4 separate regions of the Homo sapiens genome follow, and all the other regions are reported to be linked to region 3. The links are microRNA targets in miRTarBase. Many come from high-throughput screens and were not tested one by one. Region 3 holds a microRNA gene; each other region holds the end of a gene's coding sequence.
Evidence for each region. Region 3 holds the annotated microRNA hsa-miR-7854-3p (UGAGGUGACCGCAGAUGGGAA, at 1,564-1,584, opposite strand). A microRNA usually pairs through its seed, bases 2 to 8, with sites in the 3' UTR of a target mRNA and lowers its output. Matches are read on the target gene's strand: a 7mer-m8 pairs with bases 2 to 8, a 7mer-A1 pairs with bases 2 to 7 and ends in A, and an 8mer does both.

Region 1 (5,000 bases), not on the chromosome of region 3:
TCACTGGTGGCTCTGGCCCAGAGTCTTTCAGGAGGTTGCAGTCAAGACTTAGACTGGGGCTGCCATTATCTGAAGGTTTGACTGGGGCTGGAGGACTCGCTTCATAATGGCTTGTTCACATGGCTGTGGGCAGATGCAGCCACAATTCCTTGCCATGTGGACTGGTATCTCTCTATAAATCAGATAATCTTTCTTTGACAAACATTATTTCATACCCTCTTATCTCCATTCTAAATGATCTTCAACAGGTAGTGTCTCCTAACCTTTTACTTAGTTCTCTCTACCACCCAGCCTAGCCAGTATGTTAATGAGTTAGCATCTGTAAAGCACAAATAAAGAGCTACTATTTAGAGGAGTCCTTTGTAAATCAGATAATTATTTTGTATTATGAATAATTACAAATTACACCCTAATTGATCTGTATAGTAAATTAAGGTTTTTGCATGGGAGATTCCTTAAGAGGCTTCAGTATGAGCAAGTTCTGAGGGATCTTGGAGGTTCCTTTGTCTTGTTTTGACTTAAGAATCTTTTTTTAGAGTAATCTTGAGCACTCCTGAAAGAAGCTAACTATGGTATAGAAAAGGATAACCACCACGTAGCTGAAGGCTAAGATTCAGGTCCGAACTCTCGAACTAACTAGCTGTAACAAGCTGTGTAACCCTGAGTAAGTTACTCTGCCTCTCTGGGCCTATGGCTTCATCCATAAAAACAGAGGCGATGGGCTAGAATCACTAGTCCCTTCCAAGTCTAATAATCTGTCTTTCTAAATGGAATTACCTGGTCCCAATAGGAATGGTCTCATCTTAAACTAGGTTGAGCTATATGTTTCTGCTGGTCTTTCACATTGGTAATTTTCATAAACAGCGTAAACAATTATGACACACCCTGCGGCAGTCTCTAATTACAGTGTTCTTCCTTTCAGATCCAGTCTATTCAAGGCATTGAGAATGTACCTGAAGAGCTCCTGGATAAAAATTATTCACTGTGTGATTTGTTTTTAAAAACTTGCTTCATGCCCTACAGAGGTGCCAGCTATTTCTGTTGATACTATGTATAATTTATTAATCTGGAGAATGTTTAAAATTTTATATAATTTAAAGGTAACAGATATTATTGTACATAGTTGTATTTTGTAGTTTCTTCTGTAAATATGTATTTTTCATAATGTTTAATATTAAGCTTTATATAATACTATTTTTCCACACTAAAGTGTTCATGACTTGTTCTACATAAAACTAATTCAACCTGTATGACAGGACTACTGGTAAAATGCATATGGAGGTGGTGGCAGAGACAATCCTTCAGGCCATGTTTTCTACCTGTTTTGATATTCACTGGACAGGAAAAAGGGCAGGGCTAGAGAGAGCAAATACTATGGCTAGATTTGCTGCATTGCTGTCCCATGAATCTCGAGAGCCAACAGACATGTCCTAACTTGCTATTAGGACAAATGTGACAGTCAAAAAAAGGATTAGAGGGAGGGAGAAAAAAGAATTAAGCAGTACCAAAGCTGAACTAGATGCTTGTGTCTGAACTAGTTGCTCTCTCTCTCCTTTCTCCTTCCAGGGATTCAAGCCAAAGTGGTCAGCTCAGGGATCATGTAACTTGCAGTGCAAGCCCAGGATGGTAGGATGCAGGGTTGAGGGTTCTGATAGAGAATGATTCCAAACAGAAGTGATGAATTCCTTTTGTTAATAAGATGCCAGCTATACCCAGACTGGAAACATAACATGCAAAGCACTATCTACAGTGATTAGAGATCCTTTCATTGCATTCATGGTGTGGAGTGTGAACATCCACACCCATACTGTAATGTATTTATACACACTAGTTTCTGTCTCATTTTCAGTGGTCTCCATTCCTAGAAAAGTCACAATTATCCATTCCTACTTGATTTCCCATTAAAAGAATATTATGGTAGCAGATTGTGCCCCTCATTAAAAGGCTTAATGCCAACATTTTCATAGAAATGACTACAAACATCATATATAGTAAATTTAAAAACAATAGCAAAAACAAAAACAGTGGTCTTCAGTAAAATTTTCAAAACTTCTTTTAGTAAATCAATGAAGTCAAAATGTCAAGTAATCACCCAAAGTTGCATTTAATAACAAAAGGCACTACATACTGTACCAAGTTTATCTTCAATATTTGTGCCTTACTTACTTTGACTATAACAAATTCCAATGAGTCAGAAAGTATTTCCTTCATCAAGGTCCAGTTCCGACAGCATTCCTGGGAAAAATTTGAAAGGAGTTTGTACGGAATCTTCATAGATACCTGAGAAGATGAGCTGGAGATGTTTGCCTTTTTCACACTACAAATTTTTCTGTAATAAACTTGGGAATTAGAGGTCAAGTTTGTTGATGGCATAGCTTCCTTTGCATAAAGAGTATATTTCTTTTCAAAGTATATATTTTTGTAACCTACCATAAAGTCCGTAAGTGAATACAACGAATGTAATTGACATAATAATTGAAAATCATTGACTATACCTAAAATAGTTCTTTATAATTAAATAACTCTACACCCAATCTGGAAATTTTTCCAAGGTTATTTGAAGTTTACAAAAATGTGAAGCATAATCATAAGCTTCAAAGATTCACAGTTTCATTGTGCTCAATGCTCTTGTGAAATGACAGTCTTAAGCTCTGATTCTGTATCAAGGAACTAAGTGAATCTTCTGGAAATGAAAAGGAACAACATATGTGTAAGTGCAGTAGATGTACCACCAGCGAGAAAATAGAGGTCAGAGATCTACAACGTGTGGCATCCATTAGAAATCACCTTTCCTACATTGAAAAGAAAAAAGAGAAAAAGCAGAATTTTACACTAATGTTGCTTGATGCAAAGCACATTAATGCTTGGAAGGATACATTCATTTTCGACTTTTCATTCACTCAGAAAACTTCTAGTAAGTATCTGCAACCTGCTAGGCACTGTTCCAGAATCTACACATTTCTACTCACATAAAGAGAATCCTCATAAAGTTAGGATTGTTGTTACTACCTTCAATTGAGCTTAAAAGACAGCCTCATCAAGGGAATGGGATAACTGAGCCAGTCTAGGACAGTGGTCACCTTCCACAGGCCACACACTGGAAAGTGCTAATGCTACTTTAATAGCAAACCTCTGGATCTAGGAGAGAGAGCAATTAATTGCACAAACCAGGAGTTAAAACCATAAAAAAAACCTATGCATCTGTAATAGTAAATAACACTCACGTACTCTGGCAACATCTAGGGTAGTATCAGAATTATGTAAATGGACATGACAGGGAAAAATCGTAGGTTTTTTTAGTCTAATCCAACCCAGGAAATGTTTATTCCTACCCTACACCTAATTTTAAACCTTCTTAGCAACAAATATTTCACTATTCGCTCCTACTCCTGGGAAGACTAAATATATAATTGACTTATTTATTAAATTTAGGAGAAAAAAAAAGTTTTCCTTGACATTCAGCTCTATTGGATTTATTTCCATTTAATTGCATCATGTGTTATGTCTTGGTAAACACTCCATTTCCTGTCTTGGTGGGCATCCTGTCTGTGTACCTGTGCAGTACACTTTAATCATCAAGACTTCAAAGTGCTTTTGAGCTATCAAATCTTGGGAGAGTCCCATCTAGCATCTTAATAATTATTTTTCCAAGTTCGTTATAATTAACTCCTTTAACCTCATCTCATTAAATCAATTTTGTATTGTCATTCTGTTGTTCTCTGGAAAGCAGCCAATTGTTCAGCTCTTGAATCAGAATTTTCAAAGACTCACCTCTCTTACCTGGGCTTGCACATATTTGTCCTAAGTAATTCTCTATCCCTTAAACCTCTGAGTCCCTCTGTTTTATTACTTGCCCCACTCCTCCTACTTGAATATGTTTGTTTTCCCAGTTGAATGTGATTTTTATCTACTGTTCATATTATCTTTTATACCCATGAGTATAATTTCATAGTCCTTTCAGGTTCCACATCATCAAAGAGATGACCATAATTTCACTTTTTTTTGAAATGAAGTCTTGCTCTGTTGCCCAGGCTGGAGTGCAGTGGCACAATCTCAGCTCACTACAACCTCCGCCTCCCAGGTTCAAGCGATTCTGCCTTAGCCTCCCAAGTAGCTGGAATTACAGGTGCCTGCCACCATGTCTGGCTAATTTTTGTGTTTTTAGTAGAGATGGGGTTTCACCATGTTGGCCAGGCTGGTCTTGAACTCGTGACCTTAGGTGATCCACCCACCTCAACCTCCCAAAGTGCTAGGATTACAAGAGTGAGCCACCGCACCTGGCCAATTCACTTTTAAATACTAAAAGGCACACAGCACACAGACATTTTCGGGGCAGTTTTCTTTGGGAGGGTCTTTGATAAATTTTGTAATCACCTCTCGGAAGAAAGCCCAAAATGACATGTGAAAATAATATTAAACCATTTACCAGATGTCCAGCAATATAAAAATAGACCTCACATGCTACCCTTCACATGCTGATTCTCTTGCCTTGCTGTTTAAGGATCCAGTTTCTTATGTTAAACATTTTCCTTACCTTTTGCAATAATATTATTGGCCATATACTAAATTCTCATTCACTTAGCTTTCTAAGAATTCTTTGAGGTTGGAATCCTGAAATCATAAAGCTACCAGATCTGCACAACAGCAGTGGTAGTATCTGAGCCCAAACTCTGAGACGCTCTAGAGTTTTAGTTTACAAACATGAGCCAGACCAAACCTGACCTGGTGAAAATCAATAGGTAATAAACTGCTTGTATATGATAGCAGTTCAAGGGCTTTCTGGGTTCCATTTCACTGAGGAAATGAAAATATAACTGATTAGCCAAGACAGAGTGGCAATAAGGAATAACTGATCCTCCTCCAAGTTGCAGTGAGCAAGCCCTCAAGCCTACCTCATTCCTGAAGAGTTGAAGGAGAAAATGCCGTGCTAATTTTCTGCCCTGCTATTTTTAACCTGAAATTTAGAATTACATCAGGTATTCAAAGAATGTTCCCTATCA
Region 2 (5,000 bases), not on the chromosome of region 3:
TTGCTCCTCAAACTGTTGTCCATAGACCAGCAACTTTGGTGTCACATGGGAGCTTCTTAGACATGCAGAATCTTGTCACCCCAACCCCTTAGACCTACTACATTTAAACAGAGAGACATGCATTGAAACAAGATCCAGGTGCTTCCTATGTTTTTTAAAGTTTGAGAAGCACTTCACCAAGACAGTTAAAAAGTTGAGAATTAACTACTTTGGATCACAAATTGCTCTTCTATTATCATATGCACTCATGCCTTTAGTAACTCCTTTTGAATTTATATCTGAACCTTACAGTTCTTCTAGAAGCTAGTGAAAATTCCTATAGAAGCACTTGAAGTCCTTGCCCCATTTCTGTCAAGGAGGCGACATTAACATCTAATAGATAACAGCACAGCTGCAGTCACATGGTTTAGTTGCCTGAGCATGTCAGTCTTCTGATAGAGCTCTAACTGGCTTTCTAATCAACTGTAAAAGAGCTTGATGACTCTTCTCAGATTAGGATCTGCTTTATGCTGAATAATTTGTACATAGGAGGAAAAAAAGAAAAGCTAACCTGTTTTTTTAACCTGGTTCTTCTGCAGCAGACTCTTCAGAGTCTATCAAGAACATTTGACATGTCAGAATATTAAATGAGTTATTCTCTTCCCCAGGATTTTGATGGACGACCGTGTATAGTTTGCCCCTGGCATAAATACAAAATTACTTTGGCAACAGGAGAAGGTCTGTACCAGTCTATAAACCCTAAAGATCCATCAGCAAAACCCAAGTGGTGCTCCAAAGGAATAAAGCAAAGGATTCACACAGTGACAGTAGACAACGGAAATATTTATGTGACTCTTTCTAATGAACCTTTTAAGTGTGACTCTGATTTTTATGCCACTGGAGACTTCAAAGTAATTAAGAGTTCTTCCTGATAAAAAATATATAGAAATGAAAAATGTTGTGTATGCTTGAAAACATTTTTAGAATAACTCTGCTTCAGTTTTAAAGGTGATGAAATTTTTCAACATAGGCACAACTGTTTAAAATTCACATACATTTGAGAGGTTTAAGAGCACACATACTTAGTATGATGTAAGGATTATCATCAGGATCAATAGAATACATTTTATCGAATCTTCTGGATTAATTAGAAACCTGAAGGTTATAGGTTTGGGATGTTCTGTTTAAGAAGGATAAAAATAAATTTGGAGTAAACAAATAATAGGTAAAAATTAAGGATTAGTAAGAAAAAATTTTTTAATTTAAAAAATTTAATTTTTAAAATAGGAAAAAATCCCTGTTTGATGTAGCAGACTTAATTCTGGAAAAGTTTTAGTATATACAAAGTAAACAGACTATATAATGAACTTCCATCACTCAGCTTTAACAGTTATCAGCATTCTTCCATTCTTGTTTTATTTATACCTCTGTGGATTTGCTACCTCTCCTATTTGATTGTTATTTTTACATTTTTAGGAAAGTTTAAATACATTGAAATGTTCACCTCTGAACTGTGCAACCTTCCTAAATAACAGACTTTTTATACTTAAAAAATGCCTCCAAAAATGAGATAGGTTTACCTGCTGAACTTGAAAATAAGAAACTTAACCACTGTTAAGTGATCTGTGATCAAGGCAGATCTTGAAGTAAGGAAGCCAGACACAGCTGCTGCCCAGCCATGAGAGATGTAAAGTCTCCTATTCAGTGAGCCAATGTTCTTTGAATGCCTATATGAAATTTTCAAATAAAGATTTTTAAAAACGTTTTAGAACTTTGTGAATGTAGGCACAACTAAGTGTCTCCTATAAATATTATAGAGAGGAGATCTAGGGTTTTGTTCCTTGGAGTTCCCGAGCAAGGTTGATGTTCAGTTGGTTCACCCTGGTTTTATCATGTCAGTTATTTATGGTCAGTACCATTCAGTTGCAATGATGGTCATACCGTACCAGTTGTAATGTATTTAAAATAACACCCCAAGCACCCACCATGCAAAAATCAGCAGCACATAGTGGTGATTTTTGCATGGTCAGTGCTCATGCAAAAATCACCACTATGTGGGACCAGAAATAGCTAAAATGAGTAGATGATGAATTCAGAGTGAGAAGAACTGTCAAGATTGGAACCTAGTCTCAAAGCACAGTAGTATTTTTAAAGGAATAGAATTAAGAATCTAAATCTAATACTTAACATTCTAAGGAGCCGACCTGGACTCTTTCTCTTGGTTATTATAAAAATAGTAAATGAGTAAGGTCCGTATAGTAAAGACTCTGCTTACTTACCTTTACTACATATTATTACACTTCCTTTTCTGTTGGAGTTTGGATAGCATGAGTAGCACTTGGTCCTCATTTCTCAGACAACCAACGAACCAGACTTGGGCTTTTTATAGATACTGTTTGTGGTAGCAGCTACTTACTAAGTACAGAAAATGTACTATCTCTCAGGAAGGTACATCCCAGTCTATTCTATCATGTGATAATCCTTCAATGCCCAGTCAGGTCTTAACACATGTCCAGAATATAAAGTGTACAGAAGAAATCAAAGTACTTTCTTCAGGCAAAAACTAGCCCTGGTTTGCAGGAATAATTACAGAAATATTTTCTCATAGGAGCCACTGGCAATAATGAGTAGTGTGCACTTGATTTTTCATTCTAAATTTGTATCTCTAAATCTAGAAATAAAAATCATATCATGTACTGTCTTCATATACAGAAATCTTCTCATCACATTGGTAAGTAATATTTTGTTTTATAAATTTATGACATCTGTGAATTGCAAATCCTTCATAACTTTGCAAGTGATTTACAAAATAATAATAGGCAGACTCAAACTCTCCAGTCTGCATATAAAAAATAAATATTCTTTTATTTTGATATGCACCATCTTGATGGGGCTTTTTTTCCTCCCAAGTAAAGAATTAGACACTCAAAACAAGTCTTTAATAAAAACATTAATGTATTATAAATATGCTTATATTATAAACCACAGTGTAAAGTCTAACCTACCAGAGGATGGATTTTCTTGTTCATTAAAAGTATGTAGTCAGTACATATATTCCACATCAATATTCATTTTATTTACTCTATCATGTAAATACTAGAAAATGACATTTTAATAGTAGCCCCCTTCTCTTTTTTTTAAGAAAGCAGAGCAATTCAGAATATGTAAACTAGACTCTGAGTTTTGTCAGATGAAATGTGCCATTAAATAGATAACTCTTAAGTTCTGTTCAGTGATACCTGTATTCAGATTTGCTCATTCATTTCAGCTGATTGGTCAAACACAGAATGTAAAACTTGGATGTTATTACTCTGCTTATTAGCAAGAAGCTTGGGGTAATCTGAAATGTCTGGCTTCTCCGGCAATGACCTATAAGGTTTTGCTTTGATTTCACCTTCAGCAAACATAGGCTCCGAAAGCACAGGCTCAGAAAAGGCTTTTCTACAATTTTCACTCTCCTCTCTGTTTTGCCTTATGGATTCTTCTTCCTGGAAGATGTTCTTTACCTTCTTCAGCACAGCATTAACACAGACTGCCTATACAATAAAAAGAGTTTGTAAAGTGAAGTTTCTTTTTAAGCTACTAACCACAGATTAAAAACATACAATATAGTGTTCCACATAAAGTCATTTAATCTACATAATCTAATAAAAAACACTTCTTTTCAGGACCTTCAGGTACATAATATAATAAGCATTGGGAGATTGTTCTAAATAATACATTACAATCTAGAGAGCAATTTAAAACCTAGTATGCTTCAATAAATATATGTTTTACATCTTTTCCCCCCAATTCATTAGCTGTTTTACATCTTTATTCTCTTGATGTAATTAAATGAAACATTTTCTGAGAGATGGAATTTGTCCTCAAACATGGTTTTTCTCAAAGTAGTTTTTTTGTTTTAATTTTCTTCCCCCTAGACTTTGCTTATACTTACATGTGCAATGAAAGGACATCAACATATCAGTAAGAATTTAGTAAGCTACTATCAGTGGTTTCTGAGCAAATATGTGATCCACTGTCCCCTCCAAATATGCCACTCAGTACTTTAAGGAGAGGAGTGTCAAAAATAAAACAGAGAAAAATAACTTCAGAAATTCAGAACCACTAAGGACTGCATTAATTAAACTTACTCTGTAAGTTTACTAATGATGAAGATGATGATGATGCTGAGTATTCAAGGCACGCGGTGAGAACGGAAAATTCATGAAATATGAGAAGACTTAAACCAGTTTATTTCACCGAAGAAATGCCTCAAGGTAATATAAAAGATTATAAACACTTAGAAGGTTTTCCGAAAGAGGTAACAGCAAAAGGATTGAGGTCCTCAGGCTTGAACAGCCTCAACTTCCTCTTGCCCTCCTGCCTCCTGCCTCCTTCTTGCCTGCCTCTTGCTATAGAATTGAGGAACACAAGACACTTTCCCTCACTTCCCTGCAGTTAGTTCATTAGCTACCCTGTAACTAATGAAATAAAATGATATGTCTGCTGGGATGGAACTCAGAAAGGATTTTTGGAAAAGTTTTTCCTCCTATATAGACTGTCTTTTCCCTCTACCTATCTCCCTCTTCCTTCTTTGAACACTGATAGTATTGTGATGCTTGATCATGAGGCAACAAACCTAAGGACTAAAAAGTTTTTAGAAGAAAAAGAGGGAAAGACCCTGTTGTCTTAGGCTTTTAGGGCTGCTGTAACAAAATACCATGAACTGAGTAGCTTACAAACAATAGAAATTTATTTCTCACAGTTCTGGAGAGTGGGAAATCCGAGATCAAGGCACTGGCAGATTCAGGGTCTGGTGAGGGCTGGTTTTCTGTTTCATAGATGGTACCTTCTATCTATGTCCTCATATGGTGGAAGAAACAAGGCAGCTGTCTCAGGCCTCATTTCTAAGGGCACTAATCCCATTCATGAGGACTCTGCTCTCATTACCTAATCACTTCCCAAAGGCCCCACTTGCTAATACCACCACCTTGGGATTAGATTTTAACATAAGAATTTGGGGGAAGCACGGACATTCA
Region 3 (5,177 bases):
GACTAGCTCCACTTAGAGAAAGAACGTACAACAGCTGTTTAAAAAAAAAAAAAAAAAAAGCATTCCAGTGCTATACCATGAGCAGAAGTGACAGGAAAGAAGCACAGGGAAGCATCATGAGACACAGCCCACGAGAAGGTTAAATACACTGGAATTTTATGCATGTGAGATTCTCAGACAGCATTTGGCTGTGTGACCTTGGGCAGGTTGCTTGACCTCTCTGGTGCCTCAGTTCCTTCATCTTTAAAAGGAGAGGGCTCAATTTTAAAAAAATTATGGGCCACGTGGTGGCTCACACCTGTAATGCCAGCACTTTGGGAGGTTGAGGCAGGCAGATCACTAGGTCAGGAGATCGAGACCATCCTGGCTAACACAGTGAAACCCCGTCTCTACTAAAAGTACAAAAAATTAGCTGGGCATGGTGGCAGGTGCCTGGAGTCCCAGCTACTCAGGAGGCTGAGGCAGGAGAATGGCATGAACCCGGGAGGCAGAGCTTAGAGTGAGCCGAGATCACGCCTCTGCACTCCAGCCTGGGAGACAGAGCAAGACTCCGTCTCAAAAAACAAACAAACAAAACACTATGAAGCTGGAATAAAACAGCACAGTGGCAGAGCAAGGACAGTATATCAGTGGTAACTAACAGAAAGCCTAAAAGGAAACTTAGCACATATTTGAAAAATTTAGTATCTGATAATAGCAATATTTTAAAGCAATGGGAAAAGGGCACACTATTGAGTGAATGATAACAGACAATCCATTAACTATTTGGAGGGAAGGAATAGCATTATTCCCTGCCTCACACCTTATACCAAAAATTTATCCTGGGTGTAGGTGCTTAGTTCTAGGTTAATTTTACAGTTCTATAGTTTTGTTTTTTTTTTTATGGGGAATGTTTGCTCAATCTTAAAATTTGGAAGAACTCTCTAAGCCACGAAGACACTAATTAAGAAGTCACTAATTAAGACACTCAACTCTGACCACAGAAAAATATATAACTTCTATATATCAATAAATACCTCAAACAAAATCAAGAGACTAGAAAAACAAAAAAAGTTGGAGAGTAATAACTGCTACATAAATGATTTGAAAAAGGATGAACAGTTTTCTATATTTCAAAAGAAACCCTTACAATCTTTTTTTAAAGACACATGCCATAATTGAAAATAAAACACACAAAGAATATAAACAACTTGCGGAGCAAATGCAAACAGTCAACAAACCCATAAAATGAGGGCAGTGAATGAGGTTTAATGGAACAAATCCTGACTGAGGGCCACTGGGCAACATTCACAATTTTAAAGAGCTCAGAGTCCACTGCTATTGGGTATGTGTGGCCTTGCTGTGTGGTCAAAAGGGTGCATTCCTGAAAGTCCTGGCTTTGAAACGCAGCCTGGCCACAGGCTGCCCGGGTGCAGGAACCAGTGTGGCCCAGCTCCAGCGTGGAGATGCTCTGACCCACAGGCAGCCGTGGTAGCCGTGAGCAGTAGCTCTCACGGGGCCCTCTCCTGCCCTGCCTGGAACCAGATGGTGGAGAGAAGAAAATGCTCATCTCTGCGCCCTTCCTTCCCATCTGCGGTCACCTCAGCTGCCCAGAAGATGCTCAAGGTGATGGAGATGGAAGGAAAGGGCAGGAGAGGTTCACTGCCTCCTTCTGACTAGTGTTCCCTGCGGCCCTGCATGGACTCCACCCCGGTCATGCTCTCAGATCTGCTAGTGCAGCCCTCTGATTGTAAAAATAAAGCACATAGGCCAGGCGCGGTGGCTCATGCCTGTAATCCCAGCACTTAGGGAGGCAGAGGCAGGTGGACTGCCTGAGCTCAGGAGTTTGTGACCAGCCTGGGCAACACGGTGAAACCCTGTCTCTACTAAAATACAAAAAATTAGCTGGGCATGGCGGCACGTGCATATAGTCCCAGCTACTCTGGAGGCTGAGACAGGAGAACTGCTTGAACCCGGGAGACGGAGGCTGCAGTGAGCCAAGATCACACCACTGAATGCCAGCCTGGGTGACAAAAAGAGACTCCGTCTCAAAAAAATAAAAATAAAAATAAAAACAATAAAGCACATAATGACAATAATATAAAAAATCATGCACATAACCTTAGCTACCATGTACTGAGTGGCTACCATGTACTTAACAGGCAAACTTTATTCCAATGGACAAAGTGAGTGCTGCAAAGTTTGACTGACTGATGATTCATTCATTCGTTCACTCACTCAAAACTATGTACTGAGCATCTAGCAGGTGCCAGGCCCTGTTCTAAATGCTGGGGATACAGTCATGGGGAAAAAACAGGCAAACCCCTGCCTTTCTAGTGGGATGGAATAATAAACAAAATAAGTAAGAAACGCGTGGTCTGTCAGATGATAACATATGCTCAGGAGAAAAAAACGTAAGTCAGGGAACGAGAAATAAAAAATTGTGGGAGTGGGTGCCAACTTTTTGGATGGATGGAATGATCAAGGACAGCCCAAGGAGGTGACTTCTGACAGGAGACAGGAGGGAAGCGAGGGAGCGTGTGGTGTGGGTGTTTAGACAACAGGCATCCCAGGCAGAGGAAGCAGTCAGGGCAAAGGCCTCGAGGCACAGCAGGCTTGGCGTGTCCAAGGAGGCAGCCCAGATCACACCATCAGTAAGGGAGGGAGGCTTTCACTTGCCATGCTGTCTGGGCAGAGAGGCGCAGGAGGCAACACGGTGTGTCCAAGGTCACACAGTTAATCATTGAGAGATCAGCCAAGCATGGCACACTGGAGTCAGGGCACAGAGCTGCATCCCAGGGAGTCACACCCCTCCACATCCCAACACTCTGATGTCACACCTCCACCTTCCTTGGAGGCTCCTGGAGGAAAGGCCCAGGTGACAGCTCTTCCCTGGCACCAGGTGGGTCTCCTGGCTTCGCCTCCCGCTGCCTCGGGACCTGGGAAAGGTTCTCCCGACTCAGCTGCTGGGCAAGCCGAGGCCTCCTGTGGTGGCGAGACTGAGCGAGGGCAACAGCGCTAGTCCCTGGGGAGGCTCAGGGCGACCCCCGGGATTCTAAAGGTACTTAGAGACTGCGAATAAGTTCAGGGATTTATCTGTTGGGCTCAATGTATTGGCCTGGCAGGAAAGGTCATTCAGGAAATTTTTCAAAATTAGTGATAGTCAATCTTCTAAAAGACAATTATATCTGTGCGTATACCTCCTGCATCAGCGTGTGGAACATACACGCACACGCAGGTGCACACACACTTCTACCTAACACACGTCCGAATGTGAACACCACTTGTTCAACTTCGACATCTAATGATGAGGTGATCCGTGGCCAGCGTGAAGATACGCAGAAAGCATGGACTCCTGAGCCCTGGGACTGCAGTCTGAAAGCAGCGGAAACACTTCGGACCTGGGCACCTTGCGCACCTCGCTTCTTTAGCTGTCCTTGGCCTCGATTTCCTTATCTGTAGAGTGGAGCTCACCAGATTGCTAGGAGAACTACAGAATAAAGCGCCCGACTTAGTGCCTGACATCCAGAAGAAGCGCCATGAAATGGAAGCTATCAAATCGCAGGACAGTTTTAGAAGTATGTGCAGTGCAATCATTTCATTTAGAAGACAAACCAAACCCATGTAAGCAAATTTATGAGCCATTTCTAAATACAAATAGCAATGGAGGTGAGATAATCAACAACTAGCCCCAACTAGTAATTTGCAACAGAAATGAATGTTTCTTAGTCAATCATCTTCTGTTTCCCCCTTCCTGGTGGTGACATGGTTTGAATCAGCCAGTCTGGGAAAAGCCATGACACACGGGTTGACCTCTTGAAAGCAGTTAACTTGGAAGGAAAAGGAATGATTCTTAAACCCAGTGAACCCAGTTCTCCAAGCAAAGGTCGGGCGGCAGGCCCAGGCTTGCCCCTCGAGGTGTGGCCCGAGCCTCCTCAAGCCATGTGAGCACGTCACAGAGATGCCTCAAGTGTCCCAACTTCCTACTTGGTCAGCACTAACCATGCGGGTAGAGACGGCCTGGTGTGAAAAACAAAACACGGGTAGGGTCGTAGAATCGAGACTGGACTGAGGGCATTGATGTCCCAAGGGCCTCCTGAACAACAGACCATAAACCAGGTGGCCTGCATATCAGCAATGTGCTTTCTTAAAGTTCTGGAGGCTGAGAGTCCTAAGTCAAGATGTCAACAGGGTTGATTTCCTCCGGAGGCTCTGAGGCAGGATCTGCTCCACACCTCTCTCAGCTTCTGGGGCTTCTGGGGCTGCCAAAATCCTTGGCATTCCTTGGCTAGCAGCTGAATCTGTCTCTGCTGTCACACGGTGCTCGTCCCTGTGTGTCTCTCTGTGTCTAAGTTTCCCTCATCTTTTACGGACACAGTCACTGGATTTGGGCCCACTCTCCTCCAGCATGACCTCCCGCATGACCTCCAGCATGATCTTAACTTGGTCGCATCTGCAAAGTCCCTATTTCCAAAGAAGGTCATGCTCACAGGTACAGAGACTACAGCGTAAACGTGCCTTTTGAAGGCTACAGTTCAACCCATAACAATGACGATCCCAGAAGACATCAGAACAAGCTCAGGCTAGCTGGTGGCTACGTTCGACAGTTCAGCAGGAGAAGGGCGGGTGGGCTGAGTACTCAGGGCTCGCTTTTCCAATTATTCTCCCTGGGACGGTAGAGAAATTTCTTTTTTATGCAGAAGAAGCTGAACTGATCGAAGATAATGTATGTAAAAGAGGGTACGTGCCTAGCACACAAATGCCACTTAGTGATGCCACCTTGGATGGATCTGGAGGAGGCTCGAAGCTCTGACACTCGGTGACATTTCCACTACCCGGTGACACAGAAGCCTCGGAGGTAGCAGCCACGCGGGCACCCAGCTAAGGGAGAGATGTGGGAGGCGGGCGGGAGAGGCTCTGCTCTGCCTTGGGAAGCGGTGAGGAAAGCTGAATAAAGGCGCAGGCTTTTGTGAGCAGAGGCAAGAGACTCGAGTGAACTGCCAGGAAAGTCAGCTGCCAGGGGTGCCAGGTGAGTCACTGACTCAGACGGGCTACACCGATCCCACAAAAGACACGTCCTCCCACCAAGAGAAATCTGTTTGACTTTAGAAAAGTACAGGTTACAGTGATACTCACTACACACCCCACCTTGCAGCGCAACAGAGGCGAGACGGGAGGAACAGGAACTGCACCTAGGT
Region 4 (5,000 bases), not on the chromosome of region 3:
TTCTGAAAGTAGTCAAGTATGTTTTAACATTTATCTCCTTATAATATGCAAACTGCCAAACTGGAGTTATGTTTTTAGTTGGTAATTGATATATATATATATTTTTGAGATGGAGTTTCACTCGTCGCCCAGGCTGGAGTGCAGTGGCACGATCTCGGCTCACTGCGACCTCCACCTCCTGGGTTCAAGTGATTCTCCTGCCTCCACCTCCCGAGTAGTTGGGACTACAGGCGTGTGCCACCATGCCTGGACAGTTTTGGGGTTTTTTTGTATTTTTAGTGGAGACAGGGTTTTGCCATTTTGACCAGGCTAATCTCGAACCCCTGACCTCAGGTGATCCGCCAGCCTTGGCCTCCCAAAGTGCTGGGATTACAGGCATGAGCCACCACACCCAGCAATAATTGGTATCTCTTAAATCTCATTCTAGTTTGCTAGAATCAAGATTACTAAGGAGTTGAAACAAAGGTAGAAGAATCCATACTATAATATCCCAAATTATGTTTTCAAAGCTAACTCATTCCTTTGGTTCAAAAAGAAAAAAAGTTGCCTCCTTTTAAAATCCAATATTAGTATGGCTGATGGAAATTAGGCCAAATTATAAACAAATTATAAACCTACAGTAGCAACCATAAAATTTATGCTGTACTAGGAAATGACAGAGCTATTCCTAGTTTATTATTTAGCATACAGAAGGTACTCCAAAAAATTTACCGGGGCGGGGCGTGGTGGCTCACGCCTGTAATCCCAGCACTTTGGGAAGCTGAGGTGGGTGGATTATTTGAGGTCAGGAGTTAGTGATCAGCCTGGTCAACATGGTGAAACCTCGTCTCTTCTAAAAATGTGAAAATTAGCCGGGCATGGTGGCATGAGCCTGTAATCCCAGCTACTTGGGAGGCTGAGGCAGGAGACTCTATTGAACCTGGAAGGCAGAGGTTGCAGCGAGCCAAGATCCCGCCACTGCACTCCTGCCTGGGAGACAGAGCAAAACTCTGTGGAAAAAAGAAGAAAAAAATTTATTGGGTGAATGAAAAGTGATTTTGCAAAATTAGGCATCACAGAATGTTAGAAGTCATCCAGTCCAACTTATTCACAACACCCCCTCCCCTGCAGTCCCATTTTACAGACAGGAAGCTCCAACCTGTAGTACTCACAGATGCTGCTGAGATTCATCTCCACCCACTCACTGGAAGCAATCAATTATTTTGGGGGGGGTGTGTGTGTGTGTGTGTCTGTCTGTCTAAAAGGTGTAAATGAGGAGTGACATTTCTACATTGTTTATTCTGTACTTTTCCTTGGAGTTAATGCAACACCTCCTGTCGCTTAGATTTTAAAAGGAAAAAGGAGAAATGTGTCTAGTCATAAAGGGGTTGCCGTTAGGAAGTCAGACTTCAGACTGTGCGTCTAAGAGTAGAATCCACTTCTCAAGAGACTGGGAATGTAAAATGACCACTCAGGTTAGAATTTCCAACTGACAGCCAGGAGGAAAACTTACTCTAAAGTTTTTTTTGCCTAGTTTAAATTGCATTTTAAATCACTGTTTAAGCTATTACAGTATTACTGTAAAAAGTTTCAAAGTAATTTTTAGTCATTACCTACACTGAAATTTGAAAGTGAAGTCAACAGCATGCTTTATTCTAACTGCTGTTAAAACTCAAAACTATTTTTTTTAACAAATTACAATATTCCTCTTAGATTTTCTTCTGGACACCTATACTTCTTCCTACTGTGTCCAGTATTCTCCAGCACATGTACCTTTGTGTTTCTCTGCCCATGTACATACCCCTGAAAGTTCAACAAAAAAAGCTATAAAATAGCAGAGAGAACCCAAAATATTTCTTATACTGCCAAGTTCCCTTTAAACCTTGGGCACTTGCTCTACTACATGGTTGTATTAATGCTCATAACTAAGCTTTCGATGAATTAGACCAATGTGTTCTATGTTCTAAATGATATTTAGATATCTGAATCCTTCTGTTATAGCCAACAATAAAAAAAGTTATTAAAAATGTTGAAAAGTATAAAATAGTAATTATAAATTAGCAAATACCCAATTTAAAAAAGCAGTTTTCCTTATACAGTACAAGCAACAGTAATTTGAATATTATTCACTTTCAGCCACCATTTGCCCTAGATGTACTTTAAAGTTTTTAAGCTTGTGTTTTTGGAGTGAAAATGTATATGGATACTTATTCTAATAATGTAATTCAGGTATCAAAAAATACATATGCATGTTAAAATGTGATGACAGCTCATATTATAGCAACTCATAACAGGTAAGTATTATTTCCAGAATAACATTAAGTCACTTTTGTAGCTCTAAGTCAATGCTGCACAAATGGACACTTAAGATTAAGGCATCATTCTGCTCTGGAGTAGTGCTTCTGTGAATCCCAGGAACTGTACAAAGGCTTTCCGTTTTAAAAAATATATCTTCTGTTATACTTCAGTTATTTCATTCCACTGATCATTTTCTTGCAAATGAAAATTGAAAATACCAGTCTATAATGTTTTCATACACCTACAAAAAAAGAAACAAATTATTGGTTAAAACTTGATTTTTTATTTCTGAAAATATTTACTAAATGGTTCTGTGGGCTAAGGTACAAAGCTACTAATATAACAAGATGGAAAATGAATTCCTTAACACTACTAATATTATAACAATAAAGATTTTTGTAGCAGTAAATGAGTGGGTATTACTGTCTTCCCCAGAAGCAATCAAAAGAGTATTTTAAAAGGAAGAATCTTACAGTACTCCCAGACTGCTAACTTGGACATCATCTGAGAAGACATCTGGTCCACCTACACCTGTCCTAAGATTGGCGCAAGATGTAGAAAACTTCCCACAGCAACTGTTAAAGGAACTGCAGCTGAGGATTCTCAACCACCACAAGCATCAGCAATTATTTCTGCCCACATTAAGAAGAAATGTGGACCTCAGACTGAGGGCTTTTCTGGGGACCAAGTACTACTCCACAGCTCCAGCTCTTGGTGGCATGGACCTGGCTTACAATCACCGTATGCGGGACACAGCTCCTCTTCTGACTGCAGCGCACTCGGCCCGACGTGACCTCCACCCCTAGTGCCTGCGATCTGACTGCCCGACATGACCTCCACCCCTAGTGCCTGCGATCTGACTCTGCCCGACGTGACCTCCACCCCTAGTGCCTGCGATCTGACTCTGCCCGACGTGACCTCCACCCCTAGTGCCTGCGATCTGACTCTGCCCGACGTGACCTCCACCCCTAGTGCCTGTGATCTGACTCTGCCCGACGTGACCTCCACCCCTAGTGCCTGTGATCTGACTCTGCCCGACGTGACCTCCACCCCTAGTGCCTGCGATCTGACTCTGCCCGACGTGACCTCCACCCCTAGTGCCTGCGATCTGACTCTGCCCGACATGACCTCCACCCCTAGTGCCTGCGATCTGACTGCCCGACGTGACCTCCACCCCTAGTGCCTGTGATCTGACTCTGCCCGACGTGACCTCCACCCCTAGTGCCTGTGATCTGACTCTGCCCGACGTGACCTCCACCCCTAGTGCCTGTGATCTGACTCCGTCCTGGGTCTTAGGCTCTGGCTGCAGCCCTGCCCGCAGGCTCCAGGTCCTCTGCAAGGACCTAACTGCTGAGGACAAGCCCACAAGTGAGGAAACAGATGCTCCTCTAGCTGACACTAAAGATAAGATGCCTCTAGAAAAACAAACTCCTGTTATACAGGAACAGGATGATAAATGCGATAAGCTCCATGTTTGTGGTAATTTCCTACTTAGCAATTTTCTCTTGCTGTGTCTTTTACAAACCATATAACATAGATAAACCTCTTATTTCTTTCTTAGAGCCTTTAATTTTGGTCATTTTTCTCTGGGTCGAATTTCCTCAATAGTGGACAAAAGTCACCTTTTTTTCTTTTTTCTTTTTTTGAGACAGGGCCTTGCTCTGTTACCCAGGCTGGAGTGCAGCTTGTGCCATCTTGGCTCATTGCAGCCTCGACCTCCTGGGCTCAAGTGATCCTCCCACTTCAGCCTCCCACGTAACTGGGACTATACAGGTGTGCATCAACACAAACCTGGCTAATTTTTTATTTTTTGTCGAGATGAGGTCTCACTATACTAATTTAAGTATCTGACCCAGGCTGGTCTCTCACTCCTGGACTTAAGTGATCCTCCCACCTTGAACTCCCAAAGTGCTGGAATTAGAGGTGTGAGCCACCTTGCCTGCCCACCTTTTTTTCTTTAATTAATAAGGTACTGCCTTCTGAAAAGGCCAGTGGTCCACATACTAGTCCTAAACTATTTTTATTAGTTTCTTCATTAATTTACCAACAAATAATTACTAAGATTATTCTATAAGGAATAAGGAAAATGAGATTTGGGCAGATGTTACATTCTAGTCTTTCCTGTACTGCCTAATTTTGCTGATATAATTAAAAAGACTAAAAAAATACAACTGCAAATTGTTTAAAGATTATGAAATATGCAAATAAGCTGCATTTATTCAAGGATTACCTTTATACTGTCTTACCTTGCTCTTATTCAAATGGTTAGTTATGAACAAGTGGTACTCAATTTTCTATTGCCACTGTTACATGGTTATTTGTCCCTGTAAGCATATAATTATATATGACATGACAAAAAAAAAAAAAAAAAGAAGTATTAAGTTTCTGGCTAAATGGTAAAATGACAGCAAAAATGACTATCATGTAAATACAAAATAGGCTTATGGTGTCAACCATTTGTCTTCTTATAGAACCTAGAAGTAAGTAAAGAGCTAACATTAGCAGTCAAAAGTTTGATTTTATGTTTATCTTGTGGAAATACCTATTGGCTTTAAAGATGTTAAACAGCAATAATTAAGAAGTTCACAAAATGAACTTTTCCCTAGATTGTTATTTTTTAGAGACGGGCCTTAATAGTATTGCCTAGGCTGGCCTTAAACTTTGGAATTTTTCCTTGACCTTATACAAAAGATGTAATGATCCCAATGAAGATCCTAAAGATA

Region 1: miRTarBase lists PTPRB as a target of hsa-miR-7854-3p. Seed matches in the 3' UTR shown: 7mer-m8 at 3,768-3,774, 7mer-A1 at 4,230-4,236 and 7mer-m8 at 4,371-4,377.
Region 2: miRTarBase lists RFESD as a target of hsa-miR-7854-3p. Seed matches in the 3' UTR shown: 7mer-m8 at 1,480-1,486.
Region 4: miRTarBase lists ZDHHC20 as a target of hsa-miR-7854-3p. Seed matches in the 3' UTR shown: 7mer-A1 at 762-768.

What each region holds. Positions count from the first base shown.
Region 1 is chr12:70,517,434-70,522,433 of GRCh38, reverse strand. It overlaps PTPRB (protein tyrosine phosphatase receptor type B), which reads left to right. Exons shown (of 34, transcript NM_001109754.4): 34 at 923-5,000. The coding sequence ends at 945. PTPRB-AS1 (PTPRB antisense RNA 1) reads right to left here. Exons shown (of 9, transcript XR_001749196.2): 4 at 1-5,000. Among named protein-coding and RNA genes, the nearest start is that of PTPRB-AS1, 52 kb to the right of the region's middle.
Region 2 is chr5:95,655,399-95,660,398 of GRCh38, forward strand. It overlaps RFESD (Rieske Fe-S domain containing), which reads left to right. Exons shown (of 6, transcript NM_001131066.2): 6 at 648-2,684. The coding sequence ends at 911. SPATA9 (spermatogenesis associated 9) reads right to left here. Exons shown (of 5, transcript NM_031952.4): 5 at 2,917-3,515. The coding sequence ends at 3,225. Among named protein-coding and RNA genes, the nearest start is that of RFESD, 11 kb to the left of the region's middle.
Region 3 is chr16:81,530,349-81,535,525 of GRCh38, reverse strand. MIR7854 (microRNA 7854) reads right to left here and starts at 1,624; the gene lies at 1,560-1,624. The region is part of intron 1 of CMIP (c-Maf inducing protein); the gene reads right to left. RefSeq lists enhancers at 2,245-2,744, 2,745-3,246.
Region 4 is chr13:21,374,138-21,379,137 of GRCh38, forward strand. It overlaps ZDHHC20 (zDHHC palmitoyltransferase 20), which reads right to left. Exons shown (of 13, transcript NM_001330059.2): 12 at 4,524-4,601; 13 at 1-2,518. The coding sequence ends at 4,564. It overlaps LOC124903130 (nitric oxide synthase-like), which reads left to right and starts at 2,552. Exons shown (of 1, transcript XM_047430813.1): 1 at 2,552-4,445. The coding sequence starts at 3,107. The coding sequence ends at 3,457. It also overlaps the pseudogene MIPEPP3. RefSeq lists an enhancer at 2,807-3,323.